Homo sapiens: one gene and its partners. The protein of the gene in region 3 interacts with the protein of the main gene of each other region in a pairwise test. Each region holds a gene or a part of one and is shown on either strand. Other genes may lie near its edges.

Region 1 (8,618 bases), on a different chromosome or scaffold from region 3:
GCCATGTAGAAGAAACTTTGTCTAAAAGGTTGGAGGCTGAAAAACATAAAGAAAAAAGAAAATCCTCTTCTAAATCTAGTAACCATTAAAAAAAAAATCAGGCACCAAACTAAGCTTAGTATCTTCTTTCCCCAAATAATCTCTTCTGGGCTCTCTGTCCTGGAAAATGGCATTGCATCCTGCTGATCAGCGAGTCTTAGTGCTGGGCTAGGGTGAGGCAACCGAGCTTCCTTGGGTGCAAAATTCAAGGAGGCACTCATTCTCAAGGCCAGCTTTCATCTTGAAGCCCCGCAGCTAGTTGGTTACCAGCTCCAGTCCAATCTCCCTCCACATCATCTGTTAGCTGCACCTTATCCATGGTGGGTGCTTGGCATGCTGGGCTATCAAGGATCAGGGACAGGTGAACATCTTTCTATTCTTTCTGTGGCTGTTCTAGTAAAGACCTAGTCATTTGGCACCTGGGTGGAGTTAGGTTACAATTATCACTCTATTTGTCTAGCCTTCAGTATCTTGTACCTTTGTTGTGTCTATGTGACTCTCTGAGATGTAGAGAATAAAGCCCAAACTCCTTGGCACAGGCATCCAAGTTTCTTCCCATTGTGATCTCAACCCACCTTTCCAGCTTTATCTGGCACTATCATTCCCACCCCAAGAACTTTACAACCCATCTAAGCTTGTTTAACTCACCATTCTCTGCATATGCCTCACACTCCACATCTTGGCACTTTAGCTCATGTTCTTTCTTTATCTCGGGCTGGACCTTCTTCATGTGGCAAAAACCAAACCAGGACCCAGCCGTGAAGTTCACCTCCCCTGAGAATCTTCTGTTGCTCAAACCCTGCATCATGGCTCGTTTTTTTTTTTTTGGAGACAAAGTCTCGCTCTGTTGCCCAGGCTGGAGTGCAGTGGTGTGATGTCAGCTCACTGCAACCTCCGCCTCCCAGTTTCAAGCGATTCTCCTGCCTCAGCCTCCTAAGTAGCTGGGATTACAGGCAGGTGCCACCACACCCAGCTAATTTTTGTATTTTTAGTAGAGACAGGGTTTCACCATGTTGATCAGGCTGGTCTTGAACTCCTGACCTCGTGATCCTCCTGCCTCAGCCTCCCAAAGTGCTGGGGTTACAGGCGTGAGCCACCGCGCCCTGCCAATGGCTCTTGTTTTATGCTACCCTTTGCTCAGTTGGCATTTCCACATAGCCACCTGCCCTTTCCCCAGCACAGTGATGAGAGTTTCTGGCTGTTGGCACAGTGCCAAGTGACCCTTGTAACCTTCACGCCACTTTGTATAGAAGGATAACTCCACAAATATTCACTGAACCCAGGTGTAAAACTGGTAAAAGGCAGCTTTTTATAAGCAATCATTCCTTTTTTTCTCCAACTGCTACTCCTTTCATTCACTTCTACCTCTTCGTCTTTGATGTTTGATTGTAGCAGTGAAACAAAATATGCAATTGGACTTGTATAAAAAGCAGTGAGGAATTATTAGAAGACTTCACATGGTGAGGGCAGGAATTGTCATCTTTCTTATTCACAGCCCTATTCTAAGTGCTTGGCACACAGTCAGTGCTTAATAAGTAATTACTAAAACGGTGAGTTCATGGCAATTACAATTGTTTTTGCCAGTGTTTTGTTGCATATTGCCGTACAGTTTATGTAAGAATTTATATCACTTTCAAGTTTTTAAAAACTATCTTAAATATCTGCATCCACCTGACAGAGTACAATATGAAGAGTGATTGACAGTTTACCACTTTTCAGTTTTCTATTAATGACCCAGAAAAACCGTAAGCCAGGTTGCAGTTTGACTCCACAGTCCTAGAGAGAAATAAGGTGAGCATTTGCTCTCAGCCCTCCTAGAATGTCATCGAGTGACTTCATCACTTCGAGCTTTTGTGTTTTCTGGTAAGACCATGCATGAGAAGAGAGGGAGAACATTCTACATTTAGTAACATTTATTTATGCATTCAGTATCAAGTACATAAGTGCAAATATCCAGAGTCCGTAATTGAATCCATTAGGAACTACAGAGAAAGTAATACAAATTGTAATAAAGTTAACATGCTGGTACTTTTTAGTAACCATACATGTAAATCAGCCCACCAATCCCATACAACAAAAGTACTGCATGTTTGTTTTGGATTTATTCATTTATTTAATTATTTTAAGTTATACAAAACTGATTACCATAAGTGCGGTCGACTGCTTTTATTTTTACGTTGTGTGTGTTGGAAAAATGCTAAAACATCAGTCTACAATTCTATATATTGTTATTAAAGATTAATCCAACCAGCAACCCAAGGACATATAAGCGATTTCCACTATTGCATCAGAGCACTCGGCAGGAAAGGCCTAGCCACGGGGAACATTAGAAGCTACAGAAGCATTGCAGAGAAGAGAAGAAGAACACCGAAGAGGGAAAGATAACTTGGGCTCTCACCATCATGCACTTTTTTTAGCAACACAAAATTAAAAACCACATCTAATACACTTTTCTCTATACTTTAGTGGTTGACACAAGTGACTCAAATATCCTAAGAGTACAAGGAACAGCCTAAAAACAGCTGTTTTAAGGTTTGTCTCTAAGATTATGGTACTGGAGGGAGGGGGGAAAGACAATCAATTTGCAGTAATGAGTAAGAAGAGAGCTGTTACCACTCCAGACATTCCTGTTTGTGTCCAGTCCCCGGTGGGAAATCAGTTTACTCAGCATGCCTCTTAGCGCCTGGGATTTTAGCCTGAATCCTAAAAAGACAGTATCAAAAGGTAGTAAATCACAAGTGTTATTAATGAAATCATTTTATGTGTTGTTGCTTTAATTAGCTAAGTGACCAAAGAACTTAATATTCCAGAAGATATTATAGTCTTTATGTAAGTACATCTGCAAATACTCTTCTATAAAGCAATAAGAAGGAAGTAAAAACTGGATAATGAAAATAACAGCAACAAAAAAGAGAATTGGAAGAAAGCCACATTTTTTAGATCTTTTTAGGTGGAGGAACATATTGACTTATTTCAGGATTACAGAAACTGTGATATAGTTAGGGTGATTATTTATCCCCCATCTGGGACACTTCAGAAAGAGAGAGAAAGTGCTATTACTGACTATGCCAGGAAGATGAGCATAAGTAGGGATGGTTATATAACTAGGGATATAATCTGTTCCTATGTTGGACATAGGAAAAGGAACCTATGTTCACCCTCAGAGTAGTCTAATTACCCACAACTGGAATTTAAAAAGCTGGGTCCTAGTCTCAGCTATTCTATTAATTAGCTGTGTGGCATCCGGCAAGCTAAGGGACTTTTCTGGTCCTAAATACTCATTAAAATGTGGGCATAGACTAGATATCTCCAGGGTCCTGAAATTCTGTGATGCTCACAATGTAGCAGCATGATTTTCGGACAGGTTTACACTGGAAGTGTTTTGTTAATTTGAAGATTTATGAGCTTATCGTGCAGATTTTGATTGAGACCTCCCTCTGTGCCATGAGGTACCCTTCCATGTACTGGAATTCAGTGGTCAACAAAAGGGAGGAGATGCTTGCTCTCATGGAGTTTTCATTCCTGTAGGAATTGAGGAGACAGAAATAAACTAGAAGACAAGAGAAGTTTAGATGGTGATAACTGCTATAAAGAAAAACAAGGTGGTATGGCAGGCAGTGAGGGGCACAGTGGTAAGGTGTGTACCACCTCTTTTAAATCCACTCATCTGAGAAACTGATCCTCAGAGGACAGGAAGGGACCATCAGGCAAAGATCTGGATGTGAAGTGTTTCAGGCAGAGGGAGTAATGAGTGCAGAGGCATCACAGAGAGGACAAGCTGGCGGCAAGGAGATGAGAAGCCCGTTTGCTTGGGGTATGGACAGGGGAGGTCTGAAAGGCAGGCAGGGACCAGATGGTGGGTGTTGGAGTTTGTGGGATGCGGTGAGGAGTTTAGATTCTACCCTGTGTGATGGGAAACCATTGATGAATTTAGGCAGGGGAGTGACGTGATCTGATTAATGTTGTAAGAAGATCATGATGGTGGCTGTGTAAAAAAAAAATTGGGAAATGAGAGTAGAAGCAATGAACAGAGGGAGAGAAACCCACAGCAGTCCAAGTACCCGAAGGCAATGCCTGGATTGTATGGTAGACATGGAAATGAAGAGAGGGGAACAGTCTCAGGGTTAGTTTAGAGATGAGGCTGCAGGACCCACTTGATCTGTTGATAAACTGAATGCATAGGCTAGGATTAGAAGAAGAGTAATCAAGGAAGATTCTTTGGTTTTTAGCCTGAGGAACCAGGTGAAAATGCCATTTACCAAGATTGTGATAACTGAAGGAAATACAAGTTCTGGGGTGAGATTGCACGATGTGTGGCTAAGTGAATCTGAAAGGTCTATCAGACACTTTAGAGAAACCTTACATAAATAAGTGGATAGACCTGGTGCTTAGTTGAAGAGGTCTGGGCTGGAGACACAAGTTTGCAGCCCTAGACATGAGATAACCTTTAGGGTCACAGGACCAGAAGGGAGTTGGACAAGAGGAAGAGGTGCCAGCAGAGGACATGTGCAATGGTGACCATCTAACTTCTATTTGAATACTTGAATGAATGTCAGGGTACTCACTCCTTCATGGGGCAGATGGTTCTATTATTGAGCAACTCTAATCATTACTCTTTTCCCTCATATTTCATTCAAATCTCAGAACTTCTAAAATTTCCATTCACTGCTCTTGAGAGAAAAAGGGAAATCCTACTCCTTTAGCAATGTTAGACCTCCAAGTATTTGAGAATGGCTATGGTGTCCTTTTAAAGTCATCTATTTTCCAGGGTAATCATCCCCAGCAAAGTTTGCTCTTCACTGCCCATTACTATCAGATTTCTAATACCACAGTACCCTGGTCATCTTTGTGGCATTACTCCAATGTATTAATGCATCTGTTAAAATGTCCAACCCTGAAATTGAACACAGATATGGGATGGCCAATATGGAATATAATATGACTGTTGCCTATGTTGATTTAGACTTTGTACTCCTACTAATAACAACTCAACTTGCATTGATTTTTTAAAGATGCTTCAGCACATCATTGACTCACATTTGGCTGTGACCAATCAAGCAATTAAAACCCCCGAGGTATTTTTTACATACACCCTTATTGTTACCCTCTCTCATCTATCCCTCGCCGCATTCTATATCTGTAAAGTTGACTTTTTAGAAACCTAAATGTAGGACTTCACTTTCCTTATTAATTTCATTTTATTGATTTCAATTCGGCATTCTCGCTTACTCAAGATCCCTTGATTCATTTTGAATCTTGAGCTTGCCATCTTCTGAATTTGCTTTTGCTTCAAACTGTACATCATCTGGAACTTTGACAAAGATATTTGATTTGTCTTCACATAGTCATGAGAAGTAATGGGGTTGAAAGTAATGGGATCAAAGGCAGAGCCCTGTGTCACATACCTTGGCCCAGACACATATTGGATGGATTAATGAACATCTTTAGGGTCTATTATTTCAATCTTCTAGAATTCTACCACCTGTGCTATCATCTGGATCATACATCTCCATTTTTTTCCACAAGGACACCAAGAAGACTTGCTGACTACCCCCACTAAAATCAGAATACTCACTGGCTAGGGAAGTCCATCTCATCTCAGGGTTTAGTGAAGATACACTGATCTATTCTGAGTATCTACAGTTTTACTAATTCATTCTGGATTTTTGCTTGAAATTAGGCCTTCAGTTTATCAAATATAACATCTAGAATCTTTCTTTCTTCTCATTTGAAGATCGTGACAGCTCCTTTCCAATTTGAGTTTTCAGGATGTCCTTTATTCCATGAGATTTATCAAAGGTCACCAAGAGAGCTTCTAGGTAAAATTACAAGCTACTTTGTCATTCTAAAACATAACTCACCTAGACATAGGGAATTGTATTCACTTAAAGCAGATTTCTTATTATGGTCTCACTTACTCGAAGCTTTAATTTCCTCTACAGTGTTTATTTTGCCTTTTGAAATTTGAGGCTTTTTTCCTCATTTTCAAAACTCTAAGAAGTGTTATTATGCATTATTAACCCCTATTTTAAGCTGGAAAACTGAGACAAACAAAGGTGAAACGACCTAGACAGGGTCACTCAGTATGGAGGAGAGACTGGCCCTGGTGTCTACTGGCCCAATCTGGGACTGTCCTCTACCTCCAAGCCCCATGAACCGATCTCTAAGCAGTAATCGGATGATGATGATGATGATGACAATGATATATAATATTGAGGGTTTCCTACATCCAAGTAAGAATACTTTACAGACATTACCTCATTTAATCACCAAGAACCCTGTGTGGTATTAACATTTCCAATTTACAGATAAGGAAATAGGCTCATAGAGTCAAATAACATTTATGATGAGCTCATACAGCTAAAAATGCCAGAAATGGACTCAGTCTGTCTGATTCTAACAATCATGTTCTTAACTGTACCACTAAAGTGGTGTAAGTTCTTTTGCTGGAATTATTTATTCTAAGGTGGAATTACAATTTCAGAGGTTGAAGAGGACTTAGAGTTAAGATCCCACCAAGAAATTTCCTTCAAAATGTAGTGCCAGGCAAAACAGGTTATTTGGAAGAATTGTTGTTTCCTCCTCTCTGATAGATAGTGAGAACCATGTGACTTGCCTAGTTTCTCTTTTTGTCCTAGCTACCAGGAAATTCAGAGCCAACTCTGCCTGAAGCTCAATTACAGAAGCCATATTAGTCATAGGTAACATTTCCTTTCCATTCCTTTTCACAGCATTGATTTCCAATTGTAATTTAACAAGTACATTGTATATACTTTATATTCTCTGCCATCTCTCTTTTCCCTCCATTTTAACCAGGCCATGCCCTTGTCACTTTTATTTGAATTATGATAACCTCCTAGCTGATGGCCACATCTCTAGTCTCTCCCCTCTCCAATTCTTTTCTCACTAGACTGCCATAGTGATCTTTAAAAAACATAAATCTGATGATATCAATCCCCTGCTTAAAAACATCAAGGGGTGGCCATTTCCTGCTGGGTTGGAATCAAAACTCCACAGAGCATTCACCACCTGGCCTCAGCCTCTCTTCCTACATTCTTTCCAGTTGATCTTTCGACTCAGTTAAGCTCTAGACATACTGGTTGACTGTTGCCTATTAAACATGACTTACATTTTCATGCTTCTCTGTCTTTGCTTTATTACCTCTTCCTCTTGCAACGTCTTTCCCCTTATCATCCACGTGATGACTGTTTACCCATCCTTCAAGGCCCAGGTTGAATGCCACCTTATCTTAATGGCTTTCCACTATCCTGTCCAGGAAGGAACAATTGTTTCCTCATCTCTCTGACTTTAGTATTTCATATAGCTCTACTGTACTTATTATATTTTATTATAGTTATTTCTGTATAATTTTGTCTGCACCACTGGGCTAAGAGCTCTTTTAGGGCTGAGATCATTTCATTTATCTTTATACCCTCTGTACCTATCATATGAAGTGTCCAGAACATAACAGGTACTCCTCTTTTTGGACTCAACCAACAAACCAAATGAAAAAGTAATAGGTATGATTTGTGATACTCAAACTAAGTATTGGACAACTTAGGTCTAGAACTTCTATCTTCCAGTTTCCAAACTCCTATTCTGGTATTCTTTGCTATAGTTTATGAACACAGTTCTAGTTGCCAAAAAGTCACCTGAAGAGTTCATTAAAATATACATTCCAGGTTACCAATCCTAGACATTCTAATTCTATAGGTCTGTGTGGAGTCTTAGCATTTGTATTTTTAAACAGGCTCCTCAGGTTCGGGTACCACCAAGTCTCATACTGTGCTATGATACCATTTCTTAATACAAAATAAAATGATTATTTTATGCTTAATGTGTTGATTTTCATTAGGTATTGGTTACACCTGGGTCCAAGCTGATACGTTCAGGCATTTTGAAATGTGTTGTAGATCTCTCAAAGATCCAAATTCAACATAGAACCCTATGAGTTCCTAATGACTTTAAGAGGACAAATGTAAATAATACACAGTAAAAAACAAAAGTTTATAAACTTCAGAGGGAACTGAAGCACATCACATATAATCTAAGAGCAGAGGAACTTTAATGTGATTGGCCTTTCTTATTTTGTTATTACACATCTTTAACTACCTAAAATGCCTCTCTCTAAATCTGACCCTCACCTAGGTCCAGCCACATTATTATCAGATAATTAGATAGAGTTTTTGTGAAAAAGTCTAGTCCTTTGGTGAAATATATTTATAGTTAAAGATTAGGCTAGCTTTTTAATAAAACAAAATATTGAATAATAATGCAATATAAGAGCTATCACTTTAGATGACTACATACCTAAAAATAGTAATGTAAGAATTAGGGAAAACTCCTAAGTTTAATGATCATGTTAGCTATGGGTATGTAAAACTGAAATCTCTATCTCCTAATATATAAGGGAGCCATAAAGTAAGGCTGAAGACTCAGGTTTAAAAAGCAGTGGTATTAAACACATACACACAGTTGTCGAGTTAAAATGGTGTGATGTATTTAGTTGGCAAACATTTTATGTATTTTAAAGTTCTAAAAATAATTCAAAGTTTTAAAAGTAATTTAAATGATTTTTA
Region 2 (7,999 bases), on a different chromosome or scaffold from region 3:
TCACAAGTTCTGTGCTTTCTCACAGGATAACCACTGTCCTAATGGCAACTGCTGTGAGTGTGTTTAAAGATGGTCAGACTCTTTCAGACACCTACCTGAGAGTGAAAAGTGGTTCCATGTACAAGGAGAGAGGTTCCTGATGGCAATAAGAGGCTGGAGTACATTTTAGGGAGTGGAGAGTGGTTATTCTAAACTTTCTAATTTAAATCAGTGAACTTGCGTTACTTTGAATTCAAAACTTTTTTCCACAAAAATGGAAATTAGGGGCATTAATTTCTCAACTGTCACATCAAGTTTTGGGTAGGGAAAGCAATTGGAAAAAACAACTGGTTGTTTGCTTTTTTTTGAGATGGAGTATTGCTCTGTTGCCAGGCTGGAGTGCAGTGGCATGATCTTGGCTCACTGCAACCTCTCTCCCAGGTTCAAGCAATTCTCCTGCCTCAGCATCCCAAGTAGCTGGGATTACAAGCGCACGCCACCACACCCAGCTAATTTTTGTACTTTTAGTATAGACAGGGTTTCACCATGTTGGCCAGGATGACAACTGTTTTTTAAAAATAATCGAGGGAGTCACTTAAGATGGAAAACATTACTGATGACCAGAATAGCTCAAAAAGAAACAGCATTTACCTCTCCAGAGGAAGGGTACACCAAGCTTGCAGCTGCCACTGCCAACCAGGCCTTGATCCTGGCTGTGAGATCCCTCGCAGTCCCCTTATTTTTCTGAACCTGTTTCCTCATTTGACAATTCTACCATTCACAGTGATTGTTGAAATTAAATGGGTATATGTGAAAATGTTTTCAGCTGGGCGCAGTCGCTCATGCCTGCAATCCCAGCACTTCGGGAGGCCAATGTGGGCAGATCACTTGAGGTCAGGAGTTCAAGACCAGCCTGGCCAACATGGTGAAACCCCATCTCTACCAAAGATATAAAAATTAGCCAGGCATGGATGGTGGCAGGTACCTGTAATCCCAGCTATGCGGGAGGCTGAGGCAGGAGAATTGCTTGAATCTGGGAGGCAGAGGCTGCAGTGAGCCGAGATGGTGCCACTGCACTCCAGCCTGGGTGACAGAGCGAGACTCCATCATCTCAAGAAAATGTTTTCAAAATTATATTGCACTACCCCAACATATTAGGTGGTGTCAAATGTGTGTATTTGTATCTTGAGAATACCTGTGCTGATAAACTGTATAGGATGTATTAATTAGGATGGTATAGAACCACAGCAGCTTCAGTCTATAAGGTGGTTTTGTTTAAAAGTAGGGAAGGCTGGGCATGGTGGCTCACACCTGTAATCCCAGCACTTTGGGAGGCCGAGGCGGGCGGATCACGAGGTCAGGAGATTGAGACCATCCTGGCTAACACGGTGAAAAACCCTGTCTCTACTAAAAATACAAAAACAAAAAAACAAAAACAAAAAAAACACTAGCCGGGCATGGTGGTGGGTTCCTATAGTCCCAGCTACTCAGGAGGCTGAGGCAGAAGAATTGCTTGAACCTGGGAGGCGGAGGCTGCAGTGAGCCGAGATGGTGCCACTGCACTCCAGCCTGGGTGACAGAGCGAGACTCCATCTCAAAAAAAAAAAAAAAAGGGAAAAGGAAAAATCAGAACAAAGAAATTAGCAAAGCAACAGGGCTCATTTCCTGTTTGTTTGGGGTAGGAAGCTGTATTCATTTTATTCTTCTGATTTCCAAAGAAAAACATTTTTGTGGGCCCGGGACACTGTGCCTACTGGGTTAAGTAGGCCTTGGTCAGTAGATGAATAATGAGCTAAGTGATCAAGTTCCCATGTTTCAATCTCACATCTATAACTGAAAAATGTATATCCATTCAATGGGGACCCTTTTTCTCACACACAAAGCACATGTTTACAGCAGACAGGCTGAGAAACATATCATCTGCAGCCAAACAACTAAAAAAAAATACCATGACACAGTCAAGAATCATAAAGTTTACTGTTTCTTTTCCATCATTTGGCACATATCCAAGGCACATTAGAAAATTAGAAATCATAAATTACTTTGTAGAAAAATAATCCCTCCCTTCCTTCTGTACATACACAAGTATTTCCAAGAACATGGACAAAACCATTTCCCTATCACAAGGTCATTTGAAAACGGACTCAGGACAAACCCATATACGTGTAGCTCTAGGCCAATAACATAAAAATAACAGTATAATCTATAGAAATTTATAAAAAGGAATAAATGGCAATAAATTCTAACCGAAAGTAACTCTGACCTGGTTTGTGCTGTTAAGTTTTGAATTTGAATCAAAAGACTAAGAAAAGATGTGCCAAATCTACTCTCTAATCCAGTAACCATCCCGTCAGGTGTGAGTGTGACAGACATTCAAGGGAGGTTCTCAACAAAAAGGGATGTTTCTAGAAATACTGCTACAGGTGCACGTGTAGTAACCGAATATCTGTACCTACTTGTTAGAAGGAAAATGATAACCACCCTTTCCCATGTGCATGATGTGGAACAGGTCTGATGCATCCTTTCACTAAAATGAATATCAAAATGGGATTGAGGCATCTTTTGGTTCGAGTGTTGCTTTGCAAAGAAACATTGTCCAGCTGCTGCTTTCTTCCTTCAGATATGACATTTCAGCCTGGCCTCTACAGTACCATGAAACCTAAATTACTTACTTCTCTCCAGCTTAATCCTAGGTGGAGGAATTCTAGCTGTGGTTTGTGAATGTACACAGGTCAGAGAGGTTTAGCACCTTTTGGGAGGAGGAGGTCAGAATGCGGTGGTGAAACCTCTCCCACTGTGACCAACAAACCCTCATACTTAAAAAGAAGCATGCACCTCTGGCTTAAGGATCTGGATGCTACTGGAATTTTTGTCTGTTTCAATTGTATTCATTAGCTTTGAAGAGGAGAGAGATGGTGGTGGTTAACTTTTTTGTTGCATTCTTTCCTGCCACAGAAAAGCTTTCAGGAACTTGGTGCTGAAGACTTCTCAAGCCAGTCTCATGGAAGCACATTTAGTTCTCAGATGTGTTCACGCTCAGCATCATCTTGTTGCATCCTTGCTTCCTAGCAGTGGGTTCAACAACTCCTCATTCCTGTTAGGACCGGGAAGCACTAACCTCTTGGGGAGTGGAGAGGGGGCCAGCAGCCTCCGGGCCCTGGGACACGACCGCATCCTCTACCGTGTGTCTCCGCAGCATCCGTCTGTGTCCAGGGCCAGTCTGTGTCAGTCCAGGCCTCTCTGGCCAGTCGCTGTTGCCTTTCTCAGCAGCATGAGATCCACTCTGAGCTGGCAGGTTATTCTGTCTCAGTGTGACACTTTGCCTCCCTGGCTAAAGAAAAAGTACATTTTTAACCGTTGACGTCCTCACTGTACTGGAAGCCACAACCATGACAGTGACAGCTGCCCCTTAGTGCCTAGTGTCACATAATGTGCTCAGTGCTTGACAGGCATAATTTCAATTCTCACATCCCTGTCGTGGTAACATGGCATGTGCATACTACATGTGTCAGAGTAAATGTTTCACTTGTTTTCACAATCTTTATGACTCTAGGAGGCATGTACTACTATTGTTATCCCCGTTTTACACCTGAGGAAACAGGATCAGCAAAGTTAAGCCACCTGCCTAAAGTCCTACAGCTAGCAAGGGAAAAGCTAGCACTTGATGGAACTCAGGCAGATTTCAACGATTCTGGCTTTCCCACAAAGCAGCAGGTCTCCTAGCAACACCACATAAGACTAAATATGGTATCAAAATTAGTCATGTTAATTAAAATCATTTTAATTATCTAAAACAATTTAGAACTTTTGTGTATTTGTTCCAACAAGCCTATGCTACATATGCTATAAATTCTCATCAGCAACAAGGAAAGCTGTGGTTCTGAGAAGAATCACTGTCTCCGATCACAGGTTTTCAATCAAGCTTCTGAGTGATTTAAAAATGCAGTAGGGTCCGGGCACGGTGGCTCACACTTGTAATCCCAGCACACTGGGAGGCCAAAGCGGGCAGATCACTTGAGGTCAGGAGTTCAAGACCAGCCTGGCCAACGTGGTGAAACTGCGTCTCTACTAAAAATACAAAAAAATTAGCCAGGAATAGTGGCACATGCCTGTAATCCCAGCTACTCAGGAGGCTGAGGCGGGAGAATGCTTGAACCCGGGAGGTGGAGACTGCAGTGAGCCGAGATCGTGCCACTGCACTCCAGCCTGGGCCACAGAGCAAGACTCTGTCTCAAATAAATAAATAAAAAAATGTAGTGGGAAGATGGCCACATAAAGAATTGTCTGAGCAACTGTACACCATACTTGGAGACATCATTTACCCATCTATATACAAACTGTCGTTTTCTTTCTTTGGTGATTAAAACCATAGTGAAATGTGGGATGTTTCATCTCCTATAAGCACCAAGACCTGTGGTTTCCCACACATGTAACACTTTCCACTCCTCTGCTCAGAAATGTACTTTTAGTTATAACAATCAGTGAAGTCTGTACTCTACACTGTCCCATGAAATAATTCCAGTTTTAACTGCTGCTAACTCATACGGCGCACGGAATAATGAAGATGACGATCAAGGAGACGTGTTTACCATGGATTACTTTTGACAAAGCCGGGCTTTAGAAAATATGATTAAAAGCCAGTGTTTAATAACTTACCTCATGCAAAGAACCTTCGGTTAAATTAGGGACACTTCTATCTCTTGCCATAATCTCCCTTGAAGTCTTTCCCCTAAAACCCAAAATAAACGAAAATAAATATTTGGGACAGTGGCATGAAACACTCTGGTTGGCCACAAGGTGGCAGCATTTTTGACATTAGTAGGTGCAGATTTGTCCATAACCAATTACAATTGAAGCAGCTTACGTGCAGCTTGGAGTAAACTAGGGGCAAAAGCACAGAAATCAACTTGAGTTTCATACTCACTTAAACTGACCAGCTGAGTGGACAAAGTAAAACTGTCTTGTAAAAGGCTCATCTGGTAGATCATACAGTTTTGAGTTCCCTGTAGATAAAAAGATAAACATCTAAAAACTTCAAAAACAGTTGTAAAGATTATTTTAAAATTACAGCACAGACACAATCTTTCTATTCTCAGATTTACAAAATTTAGAAACTGAAGCACTGAATTTGCTTAAAGAAACACAGCTAGTACCTATTTATAACAGGTTGAGTATCTCCAATCCAAAAATCTAAAGCCTAAAATGCCACAGGCTGGGTGCAGTGGCTCATGCCTGTAATCCCAGCAGTTTGGGAGGCCGAGGTGGGCATATCACTTGAGGTCAGGAGTTCAAGACCAGCCTGGGCAACATGGAGAAACCCCATCTCTACCCAAAATACAAAAACTTAGCCAGGCGTGGTGGCACGCACCTATAATCCCAGCTACTCAAGAGGCTGAGGCAGGAGACTCGCTTGAACCCAGGAGGCAGAGGTTGCAGTGAGCCGAGATTGCACCACCACACTCCAGCCTGGGCGACAGAGCAAGACTCCATCTCAAAAAAAAGCTACAAAATCCGAGACATTTTGAACTCTTTGACTTCATGCTCAGAAGAATCTGATTTCCTGATTTGGATCCTCAACCAATGAGTATAATGCAAATATTCCAAAACCCAAAACACTGCTGGTCCCAAGCATTTGAGATAGGGGGTAGTCAGCCTGTATTATGAGAACCCCCATGAAATAGAAAAATAAAACCTTAACTCCCTTAACTCCCCCAGCCACAACCAATTACGGTGAGACAGTCTCAGGGTTATCGAGATATGTGAATGGGTTTATCCATATTATTGTATTGCATTATTGCATACCTCACTGGATAATATTTCATATTGTAAATTAAAAAAAAAAGTAGAACAAGGACCCCTTCTAAACTTTTTAAAAAGAAGAAAATACTTCAGTCTCACTGCTGTTCGGCAACTGCTGTTTTAATTATAATCAACCTCCGTACACGTACAAACTTAAAAAAAAATCTTGAGGCCAGGCGCGGTGGCTCACACCTGTAACTCCAGCACTTTGGGAGGCCAAGGAGGGCGGATCACTTGAGGTCAGGAGTTTGAGACCAGCCTGGCCAACATTGTGAAACCCTGTCTCTACTAAAAATACAAAAATTAGCCAGGCATGGTGGCACGTGCCTGTAATCCTAGCTACTCGGGAGGCTGAGGAAGGGGAATAACTTGAACCCAGGAGGCAGAGGTTGCGTGAGCTGAGATTGCACCACTGCGCTCCAGCCTGGGTGACAGAGTGAGACTCTGTCTCAAAAAAACTAACTAAATAAAAAATCTTGGTGGCTCACACCTGTAATCTCAGCACTTTGGGAGGCCAAGGCGGGCAGATCACGAGGTCAGGAGATGGAGACCATCCTGGCTAACACGGTGAAGCCCCTCTCTACTAAAAATACAAAAACAAAATTAGCTGGGCGTGGTGGCTGGCACCTGTAGTCCCAGCTACTTGAGAGTGGGAGGCAGCTACTTGAGGCAGGAGAATGGCGTGAACCCAGGAGGCAGAGCTGGCAGTGAGCTGAGATCACACTACTGCACTCCAGCCTGGGTGACAGAGCGAGACTCTGTCTCAAAAAAAAAAAAAAAAAAAAAATCTTGAAAGGTAGCATTTACCCTGGATGTCCAGGAAATGCCCAGAACACCTGACTTTGGAACATGAGGCATGAAAGAAACTATCCCAGAGACTGTTCCCCATCTCCATAGGCAGACACCTGAACCTTCAAGGTAGTGTTGACAGTTTCTATCCTATTTCCTCAGGAAACATCATTACCATCAACCAGAAAACTAGTAACAAAAAAAGCTTACCCATAGTCTGATAAATTGGGAGGTAACATACATTTCTTTGGTGCCTGTATCTCCTCCAGGCATGATTATAATTACACTTTACATATACAATTAAATGAACACCAGCAACTACTCATGAATGTCTAAATATACCCAACTTGAGCGTGACAGAAAGAACGTAAACTCTTACATTTTTTCCTGATCTTAACAGTGACATACTCCTTGCGGTCAGTTTCAGCCACATCATCTAATGAAGCAACACAGCTTGGTACCACCTGAAGCAATTCCATTATTTTTGAATTCTGCAATTTGAAAGGGAAAAGGAACAGTAATGTTTTTATTCTTTTTTAATAGGTTATTATTTGTTTTTGATCTAAATGTCAGTATTAGTGTGACTGGGCAGAAAAAGCTCAGAAATAATTACAAATGGAGCTTGGAGGCCATAAAGCCCAGTGGTAAAAGCAGGCCTGCATGGGGAGCCCGGCTCTGCTTTTACCACTGGGTAAAAGCTCTGCCCTCTCTGTGGACTCCACGCTGGGGATTCAACCACTCCATGCAACCAGCTCAACCATAATAAGATCTACTATCATATGCTTATCATGAGGCTGTTGAGGGCCCCCATATAGTAAGTACTCATTGAAACACATTAATTAACTGGGCACGGTGGCTCACGCGTGCAATCCCACCACTTTGGGAGACTGAGGTGGGAGGATTGCTTGAGCCCAGGTGTTCAAGACTAGCCTGGGCAACATAGCAAGGCCCTGTCTCTATTTAAAAATAATAAAAGGCCAGGCGCGATGGCTCACGCCTGTAATCTCAGCACTTTTGAGAGGCCGAGGCGGGTGGATTGCTTGAGCCCAGGCAGTCGAGACCAGCCTGGCCAACATGGCAAAACCCTGTCTCTATTAAAAAAAAATTAGCTGGTCATGGTGGCACACGCCTATAGTCCCAGCTACTTGGGAGGCTGAGGTTGGAGGATCATCTGCGCCCAAAGGTTAAGGCTGCAGTGAGCCAAGATTGCACCATTATACTCCAGCCTGGGCAACAAATTGAGACTCTGTCTCAAAAAATAATAATAATAATAAAATTAAAAATTTTAAAAACCAAAAAAAATTCAACATAATCATTTAAGAAAGTACTAAACTGAGAGTTTAAAATATTTCAATTCTGTCACTGAAAATTAATATAAGGAGGCCAGGCACAGTGGCTCACGTCTGTAATCCCAGCACTTCGGGATGCCAAG
Region 3 (9,324 bases):
TTTCAACTGAGGAACAAGTACAATAAACAAATGTTATATAGTAAATAAACTTTATTTATCTGTTTCTCAGAGATGACACTGCCAACAATCACAGATTTGCATACAATACAGTTATGTATTGGCTATTCACAATTTACAGTAGTGTTTTTTCCTCTGAAAAATATAAGTACAAAAGCTAAGTAAACAATGAGGTACTGCCATTTGGGATTTTTTACATGTCTTAGCTTAAAGAACTGGTCTTTAGCAAATATTCAACAGATCAACCTGAATAAAATAGTCAATTAAATGCTCTAATTTATCAGAAAAAATCCACTAAGTTTCACCTCAAAATGTATTGCACAAGTCTTTTTAAAAAATCACCCTAAAAATAAATAGGAAAGGTAAGCCGTTCTTTAAAAAGAATGGATGAAAGGAATATTATGTAAGCCCATAAAGCAGGTTAAGTTATCAAAATATCTTTTAAACAACATAAAACTCTTCCCAAGAGAAAACTGAAGAAAAAACTATCACCATTTCTCCACTGATAAAATCTATTTTAAAGGCAGTCTGCAACTTATCTGTGGGCCAGATTTTTCTTGGTCTTTTGGCTACATGAGGGGCCCTGAATGACAACTTCATTCTCAAAGAGTAGCAAGTGTGGACAGTTTTCCAAGCAGCAGTCACCCAATGTCACTCTTCTTCAAGATGAAGATCGGAGCCATGACTGGAAAAGAAAAAGGAAAAGAGAATAAAGAAAGGGGGCAAAAAAATCCAAAACATTTAGGTTGACTTTTTGGGATATTTGTTTTTTCAAGTTTGAAATAAAATTCTATTCCATGGTCTAGAGACTGCAGTAAAGAGGCAGAAATAAGGCTGGGTGTGGTAGCTCATGACTGTAATCCCAGCACTTTGAGAGGCCAAGATGGGAGAATCACTTGAGGCCAGGAGTTCGAGACCAGCCTGGTCAACACAGCAAGACCCCATTCTGAAAAAAAAAAAAAAAAGTAGAAATTGTCTAAACACTAAATCTTAAAGGTATCTTCTAAAAATTAACATTCTTGCAATGATGCAAACCAACCTATAGTCAGCAATCCTGGAAAATGGCATTTCTAAGTGAAATTTGGAACTGCAACCATTTACCATATATCGAATGCTACCAGTTTATACAGTAACCCAGGAGTAAACACGCTGACTTGGCTGAATCTCACAAATATTGGACTGGAATTAAAGATGACAGGCTGGACCCAGTGGCTCATGCCTATAATCCTAGCACTTTGGAAGGCCAAGGTGGAAAGATCACTTGAGGCCAGGAGTTTGAGACCAGCCTGGCCAACATGGCAAAACCCTGTCTCTACTAAAAATACAAAAAAATTAGCCGGCCGTGGTGGTGCTTGTAACCCCAGCTACTCGGGAGGCTGAGGCAGGAGAAATCACTTGAACTCAGGAGGCGGAGGTTGCAGTAAGCCGAGATCATGCCATCGCTCTCCAGCCTGGGCAACAGAGTGAGAGACTGCCTCAAAAAAACAATAAAAAATAAAGATGAGAAAGAGCTCTTTCCTCTTATCCAGTGTGCTGATTATTCTACAAATTGCAATTCTCCCAGCATGACATAATAGCAAAAGACAAACAGCATTTTGGTGTGGAAATTTATGTCTCATCTGGAATTAAGAAATTTAATTTAAAAATTAAAAACAGCCTGGGCAACATAGTGAGATCCCATTGCTACAAAAAATAGAAAAAATTAGACAGGCATGATGGTGTGTGTCTGTAGTCCCAGCTACTCAGGAGGTTGAGGCAGGAGGATCGCTTGAGCCTGGGAAGTCAAGGCTGCAGTGAGCTGACTGTACCACTGCACTCCAGGCTTGGCGACAGTGACACCTTGTCTCAAAAAATAAATTAATTAGAAATGCTGGCTGGGCATGGTGGCTTATGCCTATAATCCCAGCACTTTTGGGAGACCAGGGTCAGAGGACTGCTTGAGCCCAGGAGTTCAAGACCAGCCTGGGCAACATGGCAAGACCCTGTATCTACAAACTTTTTTTTAAAAAAAATAGCTAGGTGTGGTGGCATGTGTCTGTGGTCCCAGCTACTCAGAAGGCTGAGGCGGGAGGATTCCTTGAGCCCAGGAGGTCAAGGCTGCAGTGAACTGTGTTCACGCCACTGCACTCTAGGCTGGTGTGACCATGCTGGGGGGCAAAAAAAAAAAAAAAAGCTATGACATAGCCAAAGTCTTCCTCATAATGTTTCTCAAATGAAAATGCTGGCCAGGAGCAGTGGCTCACGCCTGTAATCCCAGCACTATGGGAGGCCAAGGCAGGTGGATCACCTGAGGTCAGGAGTTCGAGACCAGCCTGGCCAACATGGTGAAACCCGGTCTCTACTAAAAATACAAAAAATAAGCTGGGTGTGGTGGCGGGCACCTGTAACCCCAGCTACTCAGGAGGCTGAGGCAGGAGAATCACTTGAGCCTGGGAGGTGGAGGTTGCAGTGAGCCGAGATTGCGCCACTGCACTCTAGCCTGGGCAACAAGAGTGAAACTCCGTCTCAAATATAAAAAAAAGAAAAGGAAAAGAAAATGCTAAAACCAGTAGTCACATCAAGATATGAGTTTAAAATCCCATAAAAATAAATTACCAAGTAAGATTAATAGAGGCAAACTTTCCATATATATTAAGTGGATAGGGGGAGTTTTAGTCTTCTGAATTTGTAAATGAACAAATATTTCACTACTCATAATGTACTACTAATAGTATATTATTTATAAAACTAGTTCAATAATCATGTTGGTCCTAGGAACCTAAAGAAGACACCAACAAGATCTTCTGTTATACGTAAATTCCTTGTCAGTTTTTATTTTGAAACCGTAGCTTGATCTGTTGTGGGAAACAAAATTCAAGATCAGTTCAACAATGCTGCATCATTAAAAACAAAAAAGCTAGACGTTTTCTAGTTTAAAAAAGACTAGGAAAATATGACCACTAAATGCAATGTGAAATCTCAAGTGGATCCTGGATTCTAAAAAATTATGGGAGACATTATTTGGAAAACTGTAAAAAACTGAGTATTATGTACTATATATTAGTATTAGCTAATATTAAACTTCCTGAGTGTAATAACTGTACTGTATGTAGAAAAATGTCCTTGTTCTTAAAGATACATGCTAAAGTACTTAGTTTATGTTTACAATTGTCAAATGCTTGCAAGCATGTCGGCAAGTAATTGCCAAATGTTACAAATGGGGAATAATATAAATGGAGAGAGAACAAGAGTGACAGCAAGTCAGAAAATCTGGCCAAACATTACTAGGTGAAGGGTATATGGGTGTTCATTGTACTATTTTTGCAAATCTTATGTCTGAAATGTTTCAAACTAAAAGTTGAGGAGACAATCAATTAATCAATTAATAGAAATGCTGCACAATATACATTTCCAGTGATAATTGATATTCAGCTGCAATAATAACAAGTACAATGCAGTATTATTTTAAAAGGAAAACATTAAGACTTAATGGGTTAGCTATAGAATTTACAGTTTTTCAATGTTCACATTTATTATCAAAGTAACCTAATAAAACCATGCATTGTACTGCCAGCCATTGTAATGTGGATGACAAAAATAAGACAGTTCTGGATAATCGCTAAGGCAAATCAAATAATATATATTAAAATCAAAAGGAGGCTCAAATGAAGGCACAGAAGATTTTTAAAGATAAAAGCTTAGAGGGCCAGGCACAGTGGCTCACGCCTGTAATCCCAGCACTTTGGGAGGCCAAGGTGGGCAGATCATGAGGTCAGGAGATCGAGACTATCCTGAATAACACGGTGAAACCCTGTCTCTACTAAAAATACAAAAAATTAGCTGGGCATGGTGGCGGGTACCTGTAGTCCCAGCTACTCAGGAGGCTGAGGGAGGAGAATGGTGTGAACCCAGGAGGCGGGGCTTGCAGTGAGCCAAAAACACGCCACTGCACTCTAGCCTGGGTGACAGAGCGAGACTCCGTCTCAAAAAAAAAAAAAAAAAAAAGCTTAGAGGCTGAGGTAGGAAGATCGCTTGAGCCCAGGAGTTCGAGACCAGCCTATGCAAGACCATCACTACAAAATAAAATAAAATAAAAAAATAGGTGCCTTAGAGTCCCAGTTATTTGGGAGGCTGAGGTGGGAGGATCCCTTGAGCCCAGGAGCTGACACAGGAATGAACTATGATCACACTACTGCCCTCCAGCCAGGGTGATAAAGGCTTTACTTATTTTTTAAAAAAAAATAAATAAGGCCGGGCGCGGCTCACGCCTGTAATCCCAGCACTTTGGGAGGCCGAGGCGGGCGGATCACGAGGTCAGGAGATCGAGACCATCCTGGCTAAAACGGTGAAACCCCGTCTCTACTAAAAAAAAATACAAAAAATTAGCCGGGCGTAGTGGCGGGCGCCTGTAGTCCCAGCTACTTGGGAGGCTGAGGCAGGAGAATGGCGTGAACCCGGGAGGCGGAGCTTGCAGTGAGCCGAGATCCCGCCACTGCACTCCAGCCTGGGCGACAGAGCGAGACTCCGTCTCAAAAAAAAAAAAAATAATAAATAAATAAATAAATAAATAAATAAATAAATAAATAAAAGCTTAAAAGAACGGAGAAATGTTGTATCTTGCCATTTTAAACCTTGATACTATTATTAGCTGGATATTAACAATCACTGAGAGTATTTATTTTAATTATAGTGAAGCCCTACTAATTGTGATCTGTTTTTGATTTTGTGAAAATTCTAGCAAAGGCTGAGGTAAAGATGTATGGTACATTTTCAGAGGGTGCTAAATCAACCTAATAGCATGAAAAATACATAGAGATGAGGGGAGAGGGTTTAAATGATGAAGACAGTCAACTGCGTTGAAACATTTCATATGCCTGCATTTCACTGTAATATGTTAATCAGGAAGAATCACATTCAATTAAAGTAGGCTGCCTAACGGTCTCCTCAGGACAAATGTGTTGTCTTGTGTTAAACTGTCTGATTTCAGGAAGTAATGAAGCTATATTTTAAAATTGATCTTACTAGTTTTCATTATTTCTGACTGGCCTTGACTCAGGCTTTACAGGATTTTGAATTCTCACGGAATATACCACTTCATTTTTATCTAGAAAATGATTTTTCATTTCTCTCTCACAATCATAATTTCAAAGATCATTCTTGGAAAATTAAAAACAAAAGGGAAAATAAGTTACATAAATACTTTTTTGGATTCTTTAACAAAATTTCAAAGAGCAATTTTCAAACTTTCAATTACTCTTTAAAGAAATGAAATTTCCTAAAATTATATAACTCTTACTGGTGGTAGTAATTTTTAACTATTATCGATCCATATAACAGAATGAACAGAAAATACTTATATTAACCCATAGCATAATCATATATTTATTAAACAAGAGCAAAAGAATTCCAGCAAAATGGTTAGTATCAGGCAACACATTTGATTTTTGCACAAAAGACACAAGACATTGTTCTTCACTCACCACATGTTAACTAAGCACAGACTGATGGTTTACTCAGAAGATACCACTGCGAGGTGAAGTAAACTACAAAGCCAGGAAGAAAAAAAGCTTATTGGGTTAGTTTTAAGACTTAATATAACACATAGATTGTATGTGTATATGAAGTTCATAGGATTACAGACTGTACTTAAATTTTTCTCAAATCTCCCCAAATCAAGGGTGTACAGGCAAGGAATAAGGAATCTGTAATACCTCCCCCCATATCCTAGGTAAATATAATATTATGTAGCTGAGATTTTACTTGCAACTTTCATTTGAAGACTTAAACAACGTAATGAAAGGTGTACTGCATATTTTAAGTACATATTTACCAGCTGAATTACGGGGCAATTATTTGCTTTACAAAAGGATCTCTTTCATAATTCCATGAAAGTACACATTAAAATTTGATTTACATAATCTCAATTTACCCTAAAAAGTTTTCGGGAAAATGATGATGAATTTGAAGAGCCATGTGTCTATATGTTGAATTCTCATTCCTAATGTGTCAATTTGATCACTGAATAACTCTCTTGTAATTCAACAATGTATCAGAAATGGTTTCAGGAATGGTGACCCAAACTGAAATTTCAATTTAAGGAAACTCAATCTCAAATATAGTTTTTACTGTGACAAACCTTAAATAAATTCTATGCCCCATTTTAAGATGGTCATTGTCCAAAATCATTAATTACCTTCACGGTGATTTAAAATGGCAGCATTAAAAACAAAGATTGCTTATAAAATCTGAGTCTATTCTTGGATAGTGTGGCCAACCTCAGAAACATCATTTTATTTATCTTTCATATTTAAAGTTAGTAAAAAGCAGCAAAACCAAAAGACAAGCTAGAAAATAATATGTGCAACACACACAACACAATGAGGTTAATATCCTCTCTGGCAGAAGTATACAAAATCCATGTATATGGATGTTCCCTATGTCTATGCTTGTAAAGTACTGAAAATCTTGAAAACATAAGTAAATGGAATGAGGAGGAAACTGGTGAACTAAACTGTAGGACATCCATATAATCATACAATCAGCCATTGAAAAGAATGAGACCAATTTGTAATAAGGTGGAATAATATAAAAATATATTAAGTGAAAAAAGCAAGCCATTGCATACTCTCATTTTTATAAAATAAAATGAATGATAAAGGAGTAACTATAAATATGTAATTACATGGCTTAGAAAACATGGAGATATTCCCCAAACTGTTCACAGAGATGATACTGGCATAGCAGAAGTAGTCTGGAGGCTGAAGATCATGAGGGACTCCCTTTCTATGTTTCTGGCTTATAATATTTTTTCCAGTGATCACGTATTACCTTATTCTACCAACACCAGAATCAAAACCAATCTCAAGAAAACAAATATGTATTTGACATGTGCAATATTTTCTATAATGTGTCAGTTTTATTTGTATGTGTTTCCTGAACCCACCTTGCATGCATCTTCTGAGCCCATGCAGAGGGAAAGGGTAAACCTCGTGTGGGAATGGAAAACTTTTGTACCTAGCAATGCTGAAAAGTTCTGATTTTATTAATTCGGAGGAAATTTTGAAAATTCCAACAGGGGAAGAAAATGAGACGTTAAGAGAACACAAGACTGGTCCAGGGCAAGGACTGATGAAGAACTATATACACCACCAAGAATCAGTGTGAAAGCAAAGTTGAAGGAGAGTCAACAGAAGAGCAATTGAAAAAGATGACTAGAATGGACAGAGAACACAAACAAGCCAACCTTCTCCATCAAAGAGAAATTTTCTTTAATGGAGTCATCAAGAAAACAGTGATGTCCATTTATGTCATTACATTTTGCTAGCACTCTAAAGAGAAAAATGTCTAAGAAAACTTTTAAAGAGGGGTTTCCATATAACAAAGGAATCTCAATTCTGAGATGCTTGTTACCCAATTACAATAAACTTTCCTAATGAAATTATCTTAAATAATGTAATAATACTCTCATTTTAAAAAAAATCAGGGTGTACTTCTAGGGCAGTTTTATTCAATAAAAACACTAACAATTAGATGAGCCAAGAACTTATGTATTCACTCTTGCCCATATTGTGCTACTCGAATATCCAGTCTACTCTGGCCATCTAAGCTACCTAAACCATCATAAAATGAAGTAGCAAGGTATAGTAAACTAAAAATTGAGAGGAGGGAAAAAAAGCTGTTCTAGGAAAAACAGAGATATGTGCATTTGGTATGTGCATTTTGTTTTAACTTCTGCCTGCTGTTTAGAAGGCAATTCTTTTTCCTACTTGAAACAAATATAAAACAAGATTTTATACTTTGTGGGGAAAGAAACCTTAGAGATAGTATAATCCAACAATCTCATTTTACCAATGAGGGTCAAAAATATGAAAACAGTTTGCGCTAAGTTATACAGCAGTCAAACCATTGAGATCTAGGCTCTCATCCCAGCAATGTCGCATGTCGCTGGCACTCTAAGGTACCGAAGTTGGAGATGGGGGCATTTTGTGGGCTGGTATCACCGTGTGACTTGACCCTCCTACTGAGGTCTTTAATGGTTTTTCTTATACACATCAATGATTTACCTTTCCAGTCTCTTTTTCCAGAAAAGACTAGTTCTACACATTGCTAAAAGGAGGCTAAATAATTATCACCACCATCCCTACATTATCACTCAGCGCAGGCAACTGTACTCTGGTTCCTGGACAATCCTAACAAGATTATGTTAGTCTTGTGAAGAAAAGAGGCTCTGAGAATTGCCTGAGTTTCCACAGCAAGTCAACAAAGGACTAAGATTCCTTCCCTATACACCAAGACCCTCAAATAAACCAGACTGTAATTATGCTCTGTAATTTAACCTTACTTAACAGATAGTGATTTCTCATCTATAAAATCTACTCGAGACTAGGTTAAACTCTGAAAACAGTAATAACTTGTATCCTGTAATGAGGTTTTTTAAATAAAGAGTATAAAACTCACTGAAGAGAGAGAAGTATAGTAAAGATAAGATATATTGAAAAGTACCTCACCAGCAGTCATAGAAAGCTTTTGATTAGTGCTACAAAGTAAATGTATAATCATCATGGTCAAAAAGCAAAAATTTTAGAATGTATTCCTCTGATAATACCCAATAAATAATGTAAAAACTAACATGGGCTGCACGCTGTCAACACAAAGTACAATCCACACTCTTGCAAGCATCCCAAATACTAATTTGAAGAGGGGGCAGCTCGGCAAAATGTTTTAGGTTTGTTTTGGTTTTCTTATACCAGCTTTTCAGTCCTTAGGCAAAAATAACAAAACACTTAGGGTTGCTGATTTTAATAGAAGTGAAACCATAGCTGCACAGTTACAAAAACTTACAGAAAAGATCCATTTGAAGCATACATTTAAAATTAATGTGATTAAATCATTTAAAAATGATTATTTAATAAACTCCTAAAGTTTTGTTTTCTACACATTTCATCATGTGCACTTTCTATTGGAAAAAGAAAAATCATTTTCATACCTGTGTTTTGTTCTAGCGAGCTACAGCTCAATGGACAGGGATATGAAATTAGCTGAAATTTCTTCAAGAGACTTGTTCAAAGACAGTGATTCTTATTGCTCATTTTATGAATGATGGAAATCTCTGACAAAGGTAACTCTTGCTTCAACTTTCTTATACTCGTGAAACAATCATGAGTCACATTATCAAGTATCAAGAATCTCCTTAAATTGACAAAAGTTGACTCAAATTGATTAATTCATGTCATCTCATATCGTATTTTGGGGACTTCCTCATTTCATGTTCATCATAAAATTTCATATTTCCTAAGCACCATTTTTATTATTTGAATCATATTACTT

The links. The genes of interacting proteins can lie anywhere in the genome.
Region 1: the proteins of GOLGA4 (region 3) and RTN1 interact in a two-hybrid assay, tested with the Homo sapiens proteins (one study listed by IntAct).
Region 2: the proteins of GOLGA4 (region 3) and ANKRD27 interact in a two-hybrid assay, tested with the Homo sapiens proteins (one study listed by BioGRID and IntAct).

What each region holds. Positions count from the first base shown.
Region 1 is NC_000014.9:59,594,046-59,602,663, forward strand, and holds the end of RTN1 (reticulon-1), read right to left. Parts: intron 2,743-8,618; coding exon 2,700-2,742; 3' UTR 1,938-2,699; downstream 1-1,937. UniProt on the Homo sapiens protein: Inhibits amyloid precursor protein processing, probably by blocking BACE1 activity.
Region 2 is NC_000019.10:32,595,069-32,603,067, forward strand, and holds the end of ANKRD27 (ankyrin repeat domain-containing protein 27), read right to left. Parts: intron 7,059-7,999; coding exon 6,947-7,058; intron 4,983-6,946; coding exon 4,904-4,982; intron 4,709-4,903; coding exon 4,636-4,708; intron 3,311-4,635; coding exon 3,077-3,310; 3' UTR 1,938-3,076; downstream 1-1,937. UniProt on the Homo sapiens protein: May be a guanine exchange factor (GEF) for Rab21, Rab32 and Rab38 and regulate endosome dynamics.
Region 3 is NC_000003.12:37,357,459-37,366,782, reverse strand, and holds part of GOLGA4 (golgin subfamily A member 4), read right to left. Parts: intron 5,541-9,324; coding exon 5,511-5,540; 3' UTR 5,478-5,510; intron 704-5,477; coding exon of another isoform or gene 680-703; 3' UTR 1-679. UniProt on the Homo sapiens protein: Involved in vesicular trafficking at the Golgi apparatus level. May play a role in delivery of transport vesicles containing GPI-linked proteins from the trans-Golgi network through its interaction with MACF1. Involved in endosome-to-Golgi trafficking.